Linked DNA regions of Homo sapiens. The protein of the gene in region 1 purifies or fractionates together with the protein of each later gene. This does not show direct contact. Each region holds a gene or a part of one and is shown in the gene's direction. Other genes may lie near its edges.

The links. Proteins that work in one complex are often made in the same cells at the same time.
Region 2: the proteins of DNAJC17 (region 1) and SYF2 purify together in Homo sapiens (affinity purification with mass spectrometry; one large-scale study listed by BioGRID and IntAct). This does not show direct contact.
Region 3: the proteins of DNAJC17 (region 1) and PAXBP1 purify together in Homo sapiens (affinity purification with mass spectrometry, with the first as the bait; one large-scale study listed by BioGRID). This does not show direct contact.
Region 4: the proteins of DNAJC17 (region 1) and ISY1 purify together in Homo sapiens (affinity purification with mass spectrometry, with the first as the bait; 2 studies listed by BioGRID). This does not show direct contact.

Annotation. Positions count from the first base shown.
Region 1 is NC_000015.10:40,767,068-40,769,473, reverse strand, and holds part of DNAJC17 (dnaJ homolog subfamily C member 17), read left to right. Parts: intron 1-1,411; coding exon 1,412-1,534; 3' UTR 1,535-2,124; coding exon of another isoform or gene 2,125-2,248; 3' UTR 2,249-2,406. Other genes in the region: GCHFR (GTP cyclohydrolase 1 feedback regulatory protein), read right to left, coding at 2,125-2,248. UniProt on the Homo sapiens protein: May negatively affect PAX8-induced thyroglobulin/TG transcription.
Region 2 is NC_000001.11:25,222,503-25,226,002, reverse strand, and holds part of SYF2 (pre-mRNA-splicing factor SYF2), read left to right. Parts: intron 1-902; coding exon 903-1,001; intron 1,002-2,571; coding exon 2,572-2,737; 3' UTR 2,738-3,500. UniProt on the Homo sapiens protein: Involved in pre-mRNA splicing as component of the spliceosome.
Region 3 is NC_000021.9:32,765,256-32,768,755, reverse strand, and holds part of PAXBP1 (PAX3- and PAX7-binding protein 1), read left to right. Parts: intron 1-3,500. UniProt on the Homo sapiens protein: Adapter protein linking the transcription factors PAX3 and PAX7 to the histone methylation machinery and involved in myogenesis.
Region 4 is NC_000003.12:129,130,064-129,133,563, reverse strand, and holds part of ISY1 (pre-mRNA-splicing factor ISY1 homolog), read left to right. Parts: intron 1-2,927; coding exon 2,928-3,014; intron 3,015-3,375; coding exon 3,376-3,483; 3' UTR 3,484-3,500. Other genes in the region: ISY1-RAB43 protein, read left to right, coding at 2,928-3,014, 3,376-3,476. UniProt on the Homo sapiens protein: Component of the spliceosome C complex required for the selective processing of microRNAs during embryonic stem cell differentiation. Required for the biogenesis of all miRNAs from the pri-miR-17-92 primary transcript except miR-92a.

The DNA of each region.
Region 1 (2,406 bases):
TTTTCTTGGCAGAGCAGCATTAACCTGGGGATGGGAGATGTGGCCTCCTCTTGGCCTGCCATCAGCCTGGCTGCTATTTCCTTGTCCTCCCTTGTTTTACCCTAGAGGGCTCCTGCCAGGAGAGCGGCTGCTGAAGGCCGGGCCGTGTTGCCTCCTACCTGGCTGTGCTCCAGCCCTTCCCCTCTGGCTACCGGGCTTCCTCTGGGGTCCTCCTTCTCTTGCAGGAGGCTGGGCCAGGGAGGCTGCCGTGAATTGTCAGCCGTGCTCTGGGCCAGGCTTAGCAGTCCGGCCTAGCTGGGACTGCTGCAGCCGGGGAGAGGGGAGGGGTGCAGCCATCGGGAGGAACAGGGGAACCCAGGCTGAGTAACACTTCCTGTTTCTCTACACCCCTTACTCCAAACCTGCTGGCCAGGGCCTGGCATCTCAACCCTAGCTGCTCCCTTCCTATTCCCCGGGTCACTGACCACCACATTTTCCTCCTGCCTTGCTCTGTGACAGCGTCCCCATGCGGGGTACCGCGGATCAGGGCCCCACAGCTCTCTGCTACGGGCAGGCCACCGCATCTTGCAATCCCTGGCCTAGCTCACTTCTGTGCCAACTCAGGTGTGCTTCACACTTCTCTGAGAAGCTGTTGGGACCACATGATCATCACACAGCCTAAGCGGCACCGAGGGAGGAAAAGGTTTAATTCCCACCGCAGACCTTATCAGGGCGTGGGTTGGCAGCTTAGGTCCCGCTGTAGAGCTGCTTCTCCACCCTACAGCCTTGGCCCATTCAGATGGTTGTTTATTATTCTTTTGATTATGGGCCCTGCCCTCCAGGAGCCCTGGTGTGTAGTTTTAGAGGCACGCTGGCCTCATGCTTGCCTTTTTCCCCTTCGAGGGTGGGGCATTCCGGGCTGCCTCGGGTAGGGCTCCCTTCTGCATCCTCAGCAAGAGCCAGACCACAGGGCACCGGGCATAGAGAGTGCCAGGGTCAGTGCCCAGCAGAGCCAAGTGCATCCCTGCTCCTCAGACAACTTCCCTTCCTTGGGAACCTAAGAGGCAGAAGCTACGGGGTAGAGGGAAAGGGGTGAAGGGTAAAGGGCCCAGAGGAAATGAAGGGAGACGAGGGCCTGGCTTAGAGGGCCCGCAGGTGATTCCTGAGAAACAGATGGACCGGAGCTGACGCGGCCTGGGGAAAGGGAGGGGGAGCTGGCTGGGTAGAAGCCGGCCTGGAGGCCAAAGGTGGCGTGTTCTGGGGGACACAGGCGAGCCAGGATTCCAAAAGGATGCTCCGGGTTCCTTCCCTTCCTCTGCCGTCCTCCCTCCGAGACTCTTAGAACGCAGCACTGCCTCGGCACCGTACTCGGAGTCTGTGAGGCTGTGCCCTGCTGTCCCTGACCCCTCCCTGTCCCTGCCCTGTCCGACAGGGCTCAGTGCTGTCAGAGAGGGACTACGAGAGCCTCGTCATGATGCGCATGCGCCAGGCGGCCGAGCGGCAACAGCTGATCGCACGGATGCAGCAGGAAGACCAGGAGGGGCCGCCTACGTAGCCCCAGCTCCAGCCATCCACCCCTCAGCCCTTTTCTTCAACGTCACCAATAAATTTTTTTTTTTTTTAAGATTTTACCTCTATCCCATACATAGGTATAAGGTGCTGGGCTCTGCCGCAGAGCGCTCCACCCAGGCCTGGCGCCCCTCCCAGGAAGTGGGCAGACCCCCAGGGAAACGCTCCGCAGGGTGAGAGTCCCAGAGTCCGTGCACAAGCAGAGCACAGGCGCAGCCACTCATCACAGCCCTTTATTGGCTTGGGCTAGCTATGCAGGAGCCACGCGCCAGGGCCGCTGGAGTGCCCAGCTCCGGCCCGGGGCAGCTGCCCGAGGAACATGGCCTACACAAGGCCCTCGGCCCAGGCCCGAAGCAGGAGGGCAGCTGGGAGCACCAGGGCACCGGGCACTGCCCTCTCCCACTGCTTGACGCAGGGTTTCAGAGAAGGCCATTCACTGCCCTTTGGGGCTGGGCCCATGGCGGTGATGATTTGGGAAGAGAGGAGCAAGGCAGACGGTGAGGCAGGAGCTTGGAGGTCAGGGCCCACAGCAGCCCCTCCACAGGGGTGCCCCGTCTGCAAATCAGCATGAGAAGGTCACTCCTTGTGCAGACACCACACCAGCGTCTGGCCCACCCCCGTCATGCTCAGCACACGGAAGCCCCTGCGTTCCAGCTTGTCCAGGACTATGCGGGGAGGGTCATCGACGTAGTATTCATAACTGCAAAGAGACAGGATGGGGGGGGTGAGGAGGGGCACACAGCAAGCTCCTGGTACAAAGCTAGTGTCTGCAGCAGGCAGCCTGGCCACTCTTGTAGTGACTCACACTTGCTGGCTGCTTGCTGGGCGCTGGGGTAAGTGCACGCCCCCTGCCTCCTC
Region 2 (3,500 bases), on another chromosome or scaffold:
TGTATTTTTAGTAGAGATGGGGTTTCACCATGTTGGCCAGGCTGGTCTTGAACTCCTGACCTCAGGTGATGTGCCCACCTTGGCCTCCCAAAGTGCTGGGATTATTGGTGTGAGCCACTGCACATGGCCCTATTTTTTTTTTTTTGAGACAGAGTCTTGCACTGTCGCCTGGGCTAGAGTGCAGTGGCGTGATCTCGGCTCACTGCAACCTCCGCCTCCCGGGTTCAAGCAATTCTCCTGCCTCAGCCTCCCAAGTAGCTGGGATTACAGGCATCTGCCACCACGCCCAGCTAATTTTTGTATTTTTAGTAGAGATGGGGTATCACCATGTTGGCCAGGCTGGTCTCAAACTCCTGACCTTGTGATCCGCCCACCTCAGCCTCCCAAAGTGCTGGGATTACAGGCGTGAGCCACTGCGCCTGGCCTCCACATGGTCCTATTTTAATTCTTTTAATTAAAAAAAATTTTTTTTTTTGAGACGGAGTCTTACTTTGTCGCCCAAGCTGGAGCACAGTGGGGCGATCTTGGCTCGCTGCAGCCTCCACCTCCCGGGTTCAAGTGCTTCTCCTGCCTCAGCCTCCCAAGTAGCTGGGACTACAGGTGTGTGTCACCACGCCCGGCTAATTTTTATATTTTCAGTCTCTACTGGGTTTTGCCATGTTGGCCAGGCTGGTCTTGAACTCCTGACCTCAAACGATCCGCCTGCCTTGGCCTCCCAAAGTGCTGGGATTACAGATGTGAGCCACTGCACCCAGCCTGTATGTTTTTTTAAAAAAAAATTAAAGTAGGATCTCACAGTAAATGTATGTGTATACTTTCTTATCATGTATGGTACTTTAGTTTGAAATTTGAAAATGGAGCATTTATAGTGTTACTGTAAGTTCATTTTGCTGCCTTTTCAGTGGAGAAGAGTTTTTCCCAACATCCAATAGTCTTCTTCATGGAACACATGTGCCTTCCACAGAGGAAATTGACAGGATGGTCATAGATCTGGAAAAACAGTAAGTATTCAGTAGAGCAGCTTGACGTTGTAAATACTTCATGACAAAATGCACTTAGAATATGCACCTATATCTGACGTGCTTAGAATGAATTCAAAAGATAGAAATTGTACAGTTATACTTGCTAATTTTTGACCTGTCTATAGTGGCTTGGGGATGGATAGCAAGTGTGGGTTGAATATATCTGATTTGGAATGGAGATGAAGAATGTTGATGAAACTGAATTGTTAATATTGAAGGGGAAAGGTCTAAAAAAAATGATCCTTCTTTAAGGATTTTACTTTAACCACTCCCCTGTTTGATTTGAAGAAGCAAGAATGTTGTAGTAAATGTTCCTCGCTTAGGTTTGTGTTTCTTAATACTGATAGAGGCGACTATTAGGTAGAGCAGAATGAAAATATATTTTAGGAGTTAATACATGAAAAGTATTAAGAATAGTGTCTGGGCTGGGCGTGGTGGCTCCTGCCTATAATCCTAGCACTTTGGGAGGCTGAGGCAGAAGGATTGCTTGAGCCCAGGACTTTGAGAACAGCCTGGGCAACATGGCAAAACCCTTTCTCTACAAAAAATATACAGGAATTAGCTGGGCATGGTGGTACGTGCCTGTAGTCCTAGCTACTTGGGAGACTCAGTCAGGAGGATCACTTGAGTCCAAGAAGTGGAGGGTGCAGTGAACTGTGATTGCATCACTGCACTCCAGCTTGGGCGACAGAGCGAGACCCTGTCTCAGGAAAAAAAAAAAGTGTCTGGCACATATTATGTGCTCAGTATTAGCTGTGGTTATTATTTAATATAATTTTTTTTTTTTGAGACGGAGTCTCACTCTATTGCCCAGGCTGGAGCGCAGTGTCACGATCTTGGCTCACCACAACCTCCACCTGCCAGTTTCAAGCGATTCTCTTGCCTCAGCCTCCTGAGTAAATGGGACCACAGGCGTGTACCACCACTCCTGGCTAATTTTTGTATTTTTAGTAGAGACGGGGTTTCGTCATGTTGACCAGGCTGGTCTCAAACTCCTGGCCTCAGGTGATCTACCTGCCTTGGCCTCCCAAAGTGCTGGGGTTACAGGCATGAGCCACTGCGCCTGGCCTATTTAATATTGTTATAGTTATCTTCTTTTTTAGAAAATGTATTCAAAAAAATTTTTTTTATAGTGATGGAGTCTTCCTATGTTGTCCAGGCCCTGGTCTGGAACTCCTGGGCTCAAGTGATCCTCCCAGAGGACCTTTTGGGAGGCCTTGTCCTCCAAAAGTAGTGGGATTACAGGCATGGGATTACAGCCGCCATGCCCAGCCAATAGTTATCTTCTTCAGTACAGTCAAGTTCCCAACAATGAGTCATCGCTCTAGCATTCTGAAGATGAATTTGTATTTACTGGATTTCACAGTTCATATTCTGAGTTGTGCCATTAATTCAGTTTCAACTTTAACTTGATGAAAACTCTCCTGGCTTCCTCTAGCCCTCACAACATGTGCTATTCTAAACGTGATTATATTCCTGTTTGGTTGTGTTTTATTAAGATCAAAAGAGAAGGCAATTTTGAATTTTGTAAATTTTCTTCTTTCCCCAGGATTGAAAAACGAGACAAATATAGCCGGAGACGTCCTTATAATGATGATGCAGATATCGACTACATTAATGAAAGGAATGCCAAATTCAACAAGAAAGCTGAAAGATTCTATGGGAAATACACAGCTGAAATTAAACAGAATTTGGAAAGAGGAACAGCTGTCTAATCCCTTCAAGAACTGTTTATAGAAGCTTGAGAATGGGGTAAAAATTTCTGCTAGCAAAATCAAGTTCTTTTTGAAATTTTATCAGTAATCCAGAATTTAGTAGTCCATGCCTTCTCACTCAGCATTTAGAAATAAAAATGTGGTTTCTTAAACGTATATCCTTTCATGTATATTTCCACATTTTTGTGCTTGGATATAAGATGTATTTCTTGTAGTGAAGTTGTTTTGTAATCTACTTTGTATACATTCTAATTATATTATTTTTCTATGTATTTTAAATGTATATGGCTGTTTAATCTTTGAAGCATTTTGGGCTTAAGATTGCCAGCAGCACACATCAGATGCAGTCATTGTTGCTATCAGTGTGGAATTTGATAGAGTCTAGACTCGGGCCACTTGGAGTTGTGTACTCCAAAGCTAAGGACAGTGATGAGGAAGATGGCAGTGGCCACCGGAGGACTGGAGCAGTCCCTCCTCATGGCGGCCTGTGACCAAGGTCGGGGAGGAGTGGAGCTATCCTTCCATGATCTGATCATGTACAGTTCCCTTTTTAAAAAGCAATAAATGCTTGGGATTAGAATTTCTAACATTTTTAGTCTATCATTTAAAACAAACATTTGTATATATACATTTGTTTATATACATACATGCTTCCATTCTACAAACACTGAAAGAATATTTTATTATGGGAAATTCCATACACCCAATACCCCTGGTGAGTCCCATATACCCAGTACCCTGTTCAACAATCATTAACTCATGG
Region 3 (3,500 bases), on another chromosome or scaffold:
CAGTAAGGGTTTACATTTGCTACAGTGGCTTGCCAAGATGGTGACATGATAAATGCGTTTTGAAACTTTAGCCTGGTATTAACATGCAGCATGAGGAGAGATTGGAGGCCTAAAGCAGTTTAAACTCAAGGGCCAGCTTTGATCCATTAATAGTGGGTTTAAAAAGGTCTCACAGTTGAGCAAGAGTAAAGGCTTCTACTGATTTAGTAGGAAATTCTGGATGAGTTAAAAATGTTTTCTGTTGTTTTAGGGGGAGAAGTGGAAAGAAAGAATGATTTGAGAACCATTCCAAGGGAAGAATTGATAGGCTTAATATACACTTTGCCATATTGGATTTAAAAGAAAGAGTCAAATTTGAACTTTTGTCCTGGAGTGTCTTAATCCATTTTCTGCTCCTGTAACAATACTACAGACTAGGTAATTTATAAACAATAGAAGTTTATTTGGTTGACAGTTCTGGAGTCTGGGAGGGCCAAGAGCATGGCACAGGCATCTACTAAGGGCCTTTATGTTGTCATAACATGGTAGAAGGGCAGGTGAGTCTCCAAGACAGAGAGAGAATATCCTGCCAAACTCATCCTTTTATCAGGAGCCTGGGATAATGGCATTCACCTTCTCATGTTGTAACTGCCATTTAAGGGCCCCACCTGTTAATAACGTTACAATGGCAATTAAATTTCAACATGAGTTTTGGAGAGGACACTCAAACCATAGGGTGTCTTGGTTATGAATAATTATATATAGGAATAGAGAAGGCAAGTGGAAGGAGGAATGTTTTTAGGAGAACTGGTTATTTTGGAGTCTAGGAAACTGCCTTATTTTCCTCAGAATTCTTGAGACCAACTATATATGATGAGAGTAAAAGAAAGGTCAGGATAAGTGACAACTGAGAAAGGCCTGTTGTCATGGTTGTTGTATTAAGTCTGTTTTCATGCTGCTGATAAAGACATACCCAAGACTGGGAAGAAAAAGAGGTTTAATTGGACTTACAGTTCCACGTGGCTGCGGAGGCCTCAGAATCATGGCAGGAGGTGAAAGGCACTTTTTACATGGCGGCAGCAAGAGAAAATGAGGAGGAAGCAAAAGCGGAAACCCCTGATAAACCCATCAGATCTCGTGAGACTTATTCACTGTCATGAGAATGGCACGGGAAAGACCAGCCCCCATGATTTAGTTACCTCCTCCTGGGTCCCTTCCACAACACGTAGGAATTCTGGGAGATAAAATTCAAGTTGACATTTGGATGGAGACATAGTCAAACCATATTAGTTGCCATTTATTGTTGGGTTTAGAAATTGAAACAAGTGTGAAGTTGATGAAGCCATCTCTGACCTCTTCCATCCTTCTATCCTCATTGAATTCTGATACTCCACTCACTAGATAACTCCAATTAATGTCCTCTGAAGGCGGAGTCTGATTGTATTGTAGGTTGTCATTGGTAACACTGAAATGAAGGTCTGTCATTAATTGGCAATCCAGAACTCTTCCTACCTTCAACCCTCTATAGTAGGCAGAGACAATTAACTTCAAAATAACCACGGTATTGACTTGAGAACCCCATTTTTCTGATATTCTTAAAATAATGAGTTCTCTTTTTAATTTGAATTTGAGTGGAAGTAGTCAGTGAATACCTAGAGATGTAGATTTGGGGGTGGTGCTTATTGCGGTGATAATTAAAGGTGAATGGAATTGATGAGGGAGCCGTATATAAAGGAAAAATTCCTGAAGACCAAAGACTTCTACTCTAGTAAGCCTACATGTAGAGGAAGGGATTTACCAAAGAGATAAAAGAATCAGGAAGGCCAAAGAGGAAAAGAGAAGAATGTTTCAGGAAGATGATGGTCGCTTGTGTGAACTAGTACAAGAAAAGTCAGGAAAAGTGAGGACCAAGGAGGGGCTATTGGCAAGATTGCCCAGCGTTTCTCTTGAGGGCTTCTGACAGGATGGATGGGAGTGGCCCACCAGCCAGACCCAGTGCCCTCAGAGATGTTTGGAAGAAGGAACATCTTTTGCTAAATTGCTTGATGATGCTATCATATATGAATTAGCCGTGGCTGCAGCCATTGGGTTAGGTTGGGTGAAATCAAAGGCTGTTTGTAGGGTCAAGGCACAAAAGTTGGAGAGGAAGTAGAGGGCAGCAGGTCCACACTGCTTCCTTGGGAAGTTTGGCAGAGAGAGACTAGGCAATAACTAGAGGGACCAATGGAGTCAAGTGGGAAAGCTCTTTTGATGAAGAGAAGCCTGTCCCTCTTTGTAGAAGAGGAGAGGGAGAGCCTGACCAGGTTTAAGGTGAAGTGGGTAATAATTGTGAGCAGGTTTCCTGAAGTAGTAGTAAATGAAATTGAAGGCATGAGTGGAGCCTTGAAAAAGGTTATTTAACATCTATATAGAGATGTCTGGAAGGGTAACATGTGACCACTGACATTCACATATCACCATGCTTTCGGCTTGTGTTTGCTCAATCATAAGCAAATACTTGTGAATTTAATGAAACATTGAATCCTAAAATTTGTAGGAATCATTCATTATCTGAGCATATCTGATGTAGTAGACCTTTTGTGCTTTTGTTTTTAGTCCATTAACAGCCATTGGTTTAGCATGGGTAAATTTGTTTTGTTTTTGAGGTGGAATCTCGTTCTGTTGCTCAGGCTGGAGTGCAGTGGGGCGATTTCACCTCACTGCAGCTTCTGCCTCCTGGGTTCAAGCGATTCTCCTGCCTCAGCCTCCTGAGTAGCTGGGACTACAGGTGTGCGCCACCAAGCCCAGCTAATTTTTGTATGTTTAGTAGAGACAGGGTCTTACCATATTGGCCTGGCTGGTCTTGAACTCCTGATCTCAGGTGATCCACCCGCCTTGGCCTCCCAGGGGATTACAGGCGTGAGCCACCATGCCTGGCCTAGCATGGGTTTAGAGCAAAAGGAAATAGGTAGTTTTTACTCCATCTAATAATGTGATAAAGTGAGTTTTAAAACCTTATAGCTTCATAATCCATTTCAGAGGGAAGTCTGGGTAATGAGAAAATGGTAAATGAAAAAAAAAAAGAAAAAAAATGAAAGAGCCTAAAAGAGGTTACCTAAAATCTTCTTGGTAAAGTTAAAAAGAGGGGAGGGATGTTATCTCTGGGACTGTTACTTAAGGGAGTACAGTATGGTTTGAGAAGAAGGAAGAAGTTTGAAGCAGTTTTGGGGACAGGAACATTCTAAGGAAATGACAGAAAAATATCTTTCATATTGAGAATAAACTTTTGCTTTACTCTTTCAGTATATTCCTTGTGCCTGTTGTGAGCATTACCAGGTTCAGTGCTTCAAGGTGAAGCACTTCGATTTTTGCCTGGGACAGAGGCTGTATTAGGATTATTTAATTGTAAGTAATGTAAACCAGGACAGTTTATCATTAAGATGTAGTGGTGCCTCCTGGATGACAATGGCAGGAAAGCAATCTTGAAATGGGCCTCAGGAGTGGATTAGAACTGAGAATTAGGAGGCTCTCTTCTCTGTCCA
Region 4 (3,500 bases), on another chromosome or scaffold:
TGCCACCACGCATGGCTAATTTTTGTATTTTTAGTAGAGACGGGGTTTCACCATATTGGCCAGGCTGGTCTCGAACTCCTGACCTTGTGATCCACCTGCCTTGGCCTCCCAAAGTGCTGGGATGACAGGTGTGAACCATTGCTCCCAGCCCTAACACCCCTGTCTTACACATGGAAAGAAACGCAGAGCAGAGAAGAAACTTTCTTAGAGGGTCATGGTTGGGGAATCTTTGCATATTTTCAGACCTTTTGCATATTTTCTGATCTTTTGCATATTTTCTGATTTATAGGAAATACTCATTATATATCTTAGTTATTACTTTTTATTATAGCCACCATGTAAGTAATCTTGACATATCTGTCTGTGCTACACCTTTTATTTTTTCTATGAAACATTACCAAAACTTCACTGCATTAAAGGAGGTATTCTGAAACAAGGAAAATTCAACATTTGAAATCTCTGCCTCCCAGGCAGAGCTCTTCTGCGGGGCCCTATATTTGGAGTCCTTGCTGCCTGCACAGGTCTAGGTGGATCTGATTTGCTGGACTGAGAGAAGGGAGGGGATCACCCACACATGGATGATGGCTCAGGTTCCACATGAGGAGCTTGCTGAGACATCACTGGTGAAGAAGCAGGCTCAGGTTTAGTGACTTAATGTCACATGGGATATAACAGGCCTGACGTTCCTGCTCATGTCCAGCTGGGCCAGCACTGGGGTTCAGTGCAGGTCTGAAGCAGGATGGCAGCATGCCTTAGGAGGATTTCCTCTAGGTACAAATATTCATTTGCTCTCTCAGCAGGTGTTTAATTCATGGCTCCTGTGAGCCAGCCGCATTCCAGGTGCAGGGGCATGGTGGTACAGAGGCTTGGAGTGTAGCTCATAGTCCAGGGGGAGGCAGTCCAGTAAGAGAGACAGTGAGCAACAGTCCCTCAATAGAGCCTGGTGCAGGGACAGCCTGCAGACACTCTGCTGGGAAGCTAAACCCTCAGCTGAGATTAGGATGATCCAGCGAACTTAACCAAGGAAGGAGGAGATGAGAGAGGGCTCCCAGCAGGGGCGCATCATGTGCTGAGAGATCCTGTGATGAGTGTGAGAGACAAAGGACAGCCCAGTGTGCTGGAGTGCAGAGAGTGGGTGCTGGGTGTGAGTGGAGGCTGATGGGGAGCTGGCGTTGTGGGGAAGAGCAGTGGAAACCCACAGCAGAATTTTTTTTTCTTTTCAAATAATTATAGAGATACAGGAAGTTGCAAAGAGTACAGAGAGATCTTGTGTATGCTTCACCCAGTTCCCCCCAGTGGTTGTATCTCATGTAGTTCTAGCACAGTAGTAAAACTGGGAGGTTGACATTGGCATATTGAGTGTGTGGAGTTCTGTGTCATTTGTCTCCATGTGTGGAGATCCATGTGGCCATCATGACAATCCAGATACAGAACTGGCCGGGGGTGGTGGTCACACCTGTAATCCTAATACTTTGGGAGGCTGAGGTGGGAGGATTGCTTGAACTCAGGAGTTCAAGACCAGTCTGGCAACACAATGAGGCCCTGTTTCTACCAAAAATAAAAACAATTAGCTAGGTGTGGTTGGACATGCCTATAGTCCCAGCTACTCAGGAGGCTGAGGTGTGAGAATTGCTTGAGCTCAGGGGGTTCAGATTACAGTGAGCTGTGATTGCACCACTGCACTCCAGCCTGGGAACTGTCCCCTTACTACAAAGATCCCTGGTGCCACCCCTTCACAGTTCACACCTCCCTGTCCTCACCATCTCTTCTCCTAGCTGAACCCTAACCTGTTCTCCATCTCTGATTTTGTCATTTCAGAATGTTTTATAAATGGGATCATGCTGTGAGTCACCTTTCACGATGGCCTTGACACTTAACATGATGCCCTTGCCATCCCTCTGGTTGTTGAGTTCAATAGTTCATTCCTTTTCACTGCTGAGTGTTGTTCCATATACAGAAAAGTACACACCTGCTAAATGTGTAGGTCACTGGATTTTCACAGGGTGAACACACACACACATAGCAAATACCAGTGAAGAAACAGAACAGGACCACAGCGCCAGAAGCTCACTACTGCCTCAGGGGTCACCCTCCTGACCTCTTGTGACCCATATATTTCACTTGTGTCTGAACTTTACATATGTGAGTCGTGTGTACTCTTTTGTGTCTAATGTTTGTGGGTATTTGTGTTGTGTCCAGATTGGGGTTTTGGCAGATAGGGTTGCTGGGAATTTTCTTGTTCCCGTGCAGTGTTTCTCTTGAGTACATGCTGAGGAGTGGAACCACCAGATCAGGGTAGGTATGTGTTTAGTGTTAGATACAACCAGTTTCTCCAAGTGCCAGCAGTGGATGAGAGGTTCCTCAAGAGGCTTTTGAAGCCATCCCCACTGGGAGCCAGTCAGGGAATGGGTCGTGCACGGTGTCTGGCAGAGCCCAGCAAACAGTGGACTCCTGACTCGCCACAAGACCCCTTCTCTCTTTCCAAGTCCGTGGTGTTTTCTTTGTTATTAGAAATTTGTATTGACTCATAGGCAACCTCTGAGCTGATTATTTTTCTATGCATGGTACATTCTTTTACATTTAAATTTTTTAAAATAGTGATACATTCACAAGGTTCAAAAGTGAAAAAGAATATAAAGATATTCCACAAAGATTCTCTTTCCTCACCCTGTCCCTCATCTACCTTGGTCTCACTGCCGTCAGTAATTTCTATTCTTATTTCCTCCTTAGACAAAAGGTAGCATAATATACAGCGTGTTCTATGGCTTTTTTTACTTAATCTTGTGGGTCAAGTGTCTTTCTATAAGTATAGAACTTTCTTAGTTTTTTTTTCTTTTAAATAGTTGCAGAGTAGTGTGTTTTATAGAGTTGCCAGCATTTATCTAGCTGGGCGCCTACTGATGGACTTTCGTTTGTTCTGTTTGTAGTCGGACGAGGAAGGCAGCCAGGAGAAAGGAGGGGACGACAGCCAGCAGAAGTTCATTGCTCACGTCCCTGTTCCCTCGCAGCAAGAGGTAGGACCACAGCTAAGAGCTGCCTGGGCGCCGGGGGCTTCTCTAAAGCAGACTTCACAGAGCACTGTAGTGGGTTTTCGTTGTCCTTCCTACCCATCAGGGCAGCTCAGGGTCCTGACCACATGACACCTGTCATTGTGTTCAGGGTGTGGGGTCCAAAAAGGGCAGGACCCTCTGCTCTAGGCCATTCTATCGTTCAAATGTTTCCAATGGGAGGGAGTTAGGACTCTTGGAGACTATTCTGCGTATTTAAATCAGACTCCTTGATGGACTTCTCCCACGGGGACTTCCTCCTGGCTGGGTCTGGCAGGGGTTGAGGGGCTTTGCTGAGGAGTGAGCCCTGCACTCTTAATTTCCACAGATTGAGGAGGCACTGGTGCGAAGGAAGAAAATGGAACTCCTCCAGAAGTATGCAAGCGAGACCCTGCAGGCCCAAAGTGAAGAAGCCAGAAGGCTCCTGGGGTATTAGGACCCAGCTGGGGCTCT